Regions from separate parts of the Homo sapiens genome. Here region 1 is linked to region 2. Evidence: fine-mapped expression QTL. Tissue or cell type: whole blood. Region 2 holds a variant in brackets; the other region holds the start of a gene. All regions are shown on one strand. Distances are from middle to middle.

The links. PIP is the estimated chance that this variant, and not a neighbour inherited with it, causes the effect.
Region 1: PFKFB3 starts here. The variant in region 2 is fine-mapped to the expression of PFKFB3 in whole blood (TOPMed, PIP above 0.99).

Annotation. Positions count from the first base shown.
Region 1 is chr10:6,201,665-6,204,289 of GRCh38, forward strand. PFKFB3 (6-phosphofructo-2-kinase/fructose-2,6-biphosphatase 3) reads left to right here and starts at 1,268. Exons shown (of 15, transcript NM_004566.4): 1 at 1,268-1,672. The coding sequence starts at 1,597. PFKFB3-AS1 (PFKFB3 antisense RNA 1) reads right to left here and starts at 1,093. Exons shown (of 2, transcript XR_007062045.1): 1 at 776-1,093. RefSeq lists an enhancer at 493-997, a cis regulatory region at 931-1,462 and silencers at 991-1,320, 1,371-1,480, 1,601-2,110, 2,341-2,420.
Region 2 is chr10:6,123,548-6,126,301 of GRCh38, forward strand. LOC101928080 (a long non-coding RNA gene) reads right to left here. Exons shown (of 3, transcript XR_930619.3): 2 at 2,409-2,564. Among named protein-coding and RNA genes, the nearest start is that of MIR3155A, 27 kb to the right of the region's middle. The variant A/C (reference allele first, on the strand shown) is at 1,596.

The sequences.
Region 1 (2,625 bases), 78 kb after region 2:
TCTGCGCAGACTTTTCCGCCGCGGTGTAGGTTTCAGCGAGCGCCGCCTTCCCTCCAATCACAGCCCAGCCTCAGCGCTAAGTGTGCACCTCTCTGCAAGGCGGCGCAGCGCTCCCGTACTGAGGCTTCGTTTGCAAAAGTTACATCCGTCCCGGCGCGGGCGGCGGTTCCCCACCAAAAGCAACCCAGATCTTCCCCGCACGCCTCTGACCTGACTGCACGACTGTCACAAGTCGCGAGCTGGTGCAAACTGCGAGGGCCGGGAAAGGAGACGGGGCACGCATGCACCAAAAAGTGGGGAGGCAGAGCTGCAGGGTGTGCAGGATAACGGAGTGAATTTTAGGAGTCTGCCTAATAAGGGGCCGCCCCCAATAGTTTTCCCTCGACTTAGGTAATGAATTGCAGATCGAAATGGGTCTAGTTTTATTCATTCTTCTACTCGGGGCGATAAAGGTTTATTGAATGGTGTACATGGTGAGTGTGAAAACCAGATGCCAGCTGCCCCCAGCCCCAGTCCACTTCAGTCCAGCTCCCCGGGGCTTTCCCGCCCCCTCCTCGTACCCAGCACCGCGGGCCTCTCAAGGTTCCCAGTCTTTGGGCTAGGGGAGGGGAGCAAGGCTCAGTTCAAGTCCAGGTTTCTAAGGGATTCAGCAAAGTGGACAAGGACGAGGTGAGGTGGGAGGATCAGGGAAGCCTCCTCCCCGCGGGTCGCCCGGGTCGTGGCGGGGGATGGGCTCACGGGTATTATCAGGGAGCAGCCTGGCCCATGTCCTTACCTGGACTGCGCCTGCCCCACAGCGCGTGTTAGGAATGCAGAGTATTGGGGCTCCATGGCCCTAAAGGAGCTGCATTGGTAGGATGCACTTTAAGCAGCTTCCCAAGGGATTCGGCTGCGGGGTCCACGGTCTACACTGGGCAGGACTGCGTCTCTGCTCTCCTCCCGGCCAGCACAGTTGAGGTGAGGGGCCGGAATTAGTCGGGGAAGCTGTGCCAGACGTCCCGAGGGGACAACGGGACGAGGGGATAACAGCAGCCAGGACCCTTCAGCAGGGCTGGGCGCGCTCCAGGCCCGGGGCAGGGCGGCGGGAGCTGGTGCACCGCCGTCGCCGGCCCGCAGGGGGAGCTCGCAGGCTGCTTCCCGGCTCGCCCACCCTCCTCCCCACGTGGAAGGGGGCTGGGACCCAAGGAATGCGGCCCGCCCCGAGGCTGACGTACGCGTCTGCGGCCAGCCCGGACTCTTTAAAAGCCGGCGGTGCGCGGGGCATCCCAGCCAAGCCGGAGAGGAGGCGAGCAGCAGGGCCTGGTGGCGAGAGCGCGGCTGTCACTGCGCCCGAGCATCCCAGAGCTTTCCGAGCGGACGAGCCGGCCGTGCCGGGCATCCCCAGCCTCGCTACCCTCGCAGCACACGTCGAGCCCCGCACAGGCGAGGGTCCGGAACTTAGCCCAAAGCACGTTTCCCCTGGCAGCGCAGGAAACGCCCGGCCGCGCGCCGGCGCACGCCCCCCTCTCCTCCTTTGTTCCGGGGGTCGGCGGCCGCTCTCCTGCCAGCGTCGGGATCTCGGCCCCGGGAGGCGGGCCGTCGGGCGCAGCCGCGAAGATGCCGTTGGAACTGACGCAGAGCCGAGTGCAGAAGATCTGGGTGCCCGTGGACCACAGGCCCTCGTTGCCCAGATGTGAGTGCAGCTGCGCGGAGCCGGGTTGCAGGGCGGGCTGCGCCGGGCCGGGCCATTGTGTGGGGCGGCTTTGTGCCGACGCCCCTCTGCGGGGGGCGCGCCCGTGCGGGTCGCGCCGGCGGGGCGGGGCGGAGGCGCGGGCTGCGCGTCCTTGGCCGGGCGGCGGGGGCGCTGTGGCCCTTGTCCCGGTGGCTGCCCCGCCGGCCCGGAAACGGCGAGTGCGCCCGGCCGGGCTGCGTACCCCGAGACGGAGGGACGCGCGCGCCTGGGCAGGCCAGGGAGGGGATCCACATCCTCCGCGATCCCTGTCCTCGACACCCGTCTCGGGCGGCCGTCGCCGGAGCGCAGCCCAGGGACCCGGCCGCTCGCGCCTCCGCCCCTTTTCACCGTCCGGATCTCCTCTCTCTGCATGTTTCCATCTCCTCTCCCGCCTTGCTATGCATTCCTATCCCCTCGCTTCACTTAATAACCTATTTCTCTGTCCTGTTTTCTCTTTCGATATATATGTCTCTGTTTTTCTCTGTTTCTACCTCCTTCCTCTCCCACTGTTTCTTTCTGCTTTTATCTCTTTCTCTCTCCTTCTCTCTCTTCCGTGCATCTCCAGTGCCATGGGGGCGCCCGTGCTGGGGGCGCCAGGAGAGCCACCTGGAGCCACGCCTGTGTCCCCGGCTTTGGGGAGGGTCGGTGGGTTGGTGAGTGCACGGTTGGCGCTGCTCCACGCGCCCCGGGCGCACGCACCCCCCGGTGCTCGGAATTGGCTGGCAGTACCCTGCCCCGCCCCGCCGGTCGCCGCCCCCGCCACCAGCGATCGCTTGGGAGAGGGTTACCTCGAGCTCCACCTCAGCTGCGGAGCGCCGCCGCGGAAAAGGGCGGGTGGGCAGCGCAGAGGGGCGACGCTGCCTCTCCAGGTAATGCGCCCCGGCTCCCATGGGCTGGACAGGGAGCCGCCTGGT
Region 2 (2,754 bases):
GTCTAAGCAGTGAAAACATAAGGTTTCCGATAAGCTAAGACAGTGTCTATCCATGGACGGGTTCGTGACAAACCCCTGTGGGTCCCTGGCTTGCTGAAACCAGGTTTCACATGAGGGGAGGAAGTGGCTTGACAAGAAGGGGGTTGCTAAGGGAACTTTATTACTCATTTCTCTTGGAAAAAAGCAGAAGGAATAAATGGAATAAAAGTCTGATAATTTGGCAGACATGCTTTGCAGTTACTTGCAGTACTGTGCTTAGGTTCAGAATAAGGAACTAAGTAACAATAATTGACGCTGAATCTCTTCAGAAGTAAGCTGATGGTGACTCAATAAACTCTCCCAGATGACCGCTGTATACACAGGTATTTTATGAGGGTGCAACTGGATTAAGTCATTCTGAACTGAATTTTGCATAATTATTACCAAAATTTGGATTGAAAAGTAAGTTTACAGTTGGCATTCCTATTTAATTTTAGTTTTTGTCAAAATAATATCTGTACATAATTATAAAATCAACTAAGTCTTCAAATACTCATAAATCAGAACAGCACTCTGCCTCCACCAGTCCCATTCTCCAAAGGAAAACACATTCAGTTCTTGTTTTTTTTTCTTGTTGTTGTTTTGGTTTTTGCATTTTTCTTTTTTCTTTTTTTTTTTTGAGACAGAGTTTTGCTCTTGTCGCGCAGGCTTGAATTCCTGGGCTCAAGCGACCCTCCACCCTTGGCCTCCCAAAGTGCAAGGGATTACAGGTGTGAGCCACCATACCAGCCTTCAAGGGCAGTTCTGATGCCTAACACCTGCTGATCCAGCTCAACAATATTGGATCACTTGAGGTCAGGAGTTCGAGACCAGCCTGGCCAACAGGGTGAAACACTCTCTCTACTAAAAACACAAAAATTATCCTGGCATGGTGGCGTGTGCCTGTAAGCCCAGCTATTTGGGAGGCTGAGACAGGAGAATCACTTGAACCCAGGAGGCAGAGGCTGCAGTGAGCCGAGATTGTGCCGCTGCACTCTAGCCTGGGTGACAGAGTCAAACTCTGTCTCAAAAAAAAAAAAAAAAGTCTCCGATGCCCTCTGGCCTTCATGGTGGACATTGGCATGTAAAGCTCACAAACACCTTCTCCCTTGCAAGGAGGATGATACAGAATCTTCACATTCTTCTGCATGGCACCAATTGTGCTATTTTAACAACAATGACTGTGCAGAAATGAAGCCAGTGCTTTTTTCCTCCAAGCCTTTGGACAAAGCATGTTTTATGACAAAAATAATCCCTCCGGCTCACATGTCCTCTCAGGCTTCCCACTGCTCTCCCACACAGCCTCTCGCTCCGAGAAGTGAGTCCCCTCCCGCTAATGCCAATCCTTCGGGCACACCCAGAACTTGTTTCCAGAGACTGAAATAACATTTCCAACGGGGTGGTGCCACCGGATTTGCTGAGCTGTTTAGTGGCCCATAGTGAGCTGATTTGTGTTGGGTAGATTATCTTCCCTGGGCGTGACGGGAAGGAGAGACTCAAGGCAGAACTTCTTTTTGAAACAAATGAATTTGGAAATATTAGGCAAGGAGGAAATAGTGATATAACTTGTTTTTTCC[A/C]GTATTGAAAGATGCCACCTCTGTACTTAACCACAGAGTAAGAAATATTCAGGAAAGTATATATTTTTATAGCATTGAAGTTAACCATTGAAGAGGGATTTATTAAGAGCTTACTATTAGGCAGTATGAGAATTTGTTTAAAGTATTAGATACCCCAAAATCCTATTCAAAAAGACACAAATATGATTCTAAAATATGTAAACAACAATGCTAGTAAACAAATGAAGGTATAATATAATTTGGCCCAAGAAACCCCCACGTTCAGAGCTTAGAGAAAATATATTACTTTTTTCCCCCTTTCTGGCTTTTACAGCCTTACTAAAACAAAAACAATTCTGGTGACTGAAGATTCAAAAAACAAAACAAAACAAAACAAAAAACCAGCCGGGTGCGGTGGCTCACGCCTGTAATCCCAGCACTTTGGGAGGCCGAGGCGGGCAGATCACAAGGTCAGGAGATCGAGACCATCCTGGCTAACATGGTGAAACCCTGTCTCTACTAAAAATTAAAAAAAATCAGCTGGGTGTGGCGGCACGCGCCTGTAGTCCCAGCTACTCGGGAGGGCGAGACAGGAGAATCGCTTGAACCCAGGAGGCGGAGGTTGCAGTGAGCCAAGATCGCGCGGCTGCACTCCAGCTTGGGCGACAGAGCGAGACTCGGTCTCAAAAAAAAAAGAAAAAAAAGAAAAAAATTGTAATTCCAAAGCGTGAACCCTTCACTGAAGCCACTGAACACTCTCATCCACGCCAAAACTTCAAAAGTTAACACTGGCTTGCACAGTTTGACTGATCCTGGAGCGGCAGAGTGACTCACCGTCTGCAGCCAGGCCTGGACGGCACTGCTGGTCCTAAGTCCCTCAGCGTTCAGGTCTCAGTCTACCCAGCCAGAGACGACCGCTGCGCGTCCTCCGTCAGATGGCAAAGCCACGACTTTGTGCCGACCTACAGAACGCCAGTTAATCTTGGGAATCTGAAATGATTCATTTTATTTAGCAAAGTGTTTTCAATTCCTTCAAGATTGGTGCTTGTCTAAACCATTTGCTCTGAGTGAGTTGTAAGGAATCAGGCACGAAGCACCTTAAATACCCCAGGCTCAGGGTGTTTTGAACAGGCCTTGCAGGCCGGCAGAGGCCGTCTCCTCCTACCCAGAGAGCAGCGCT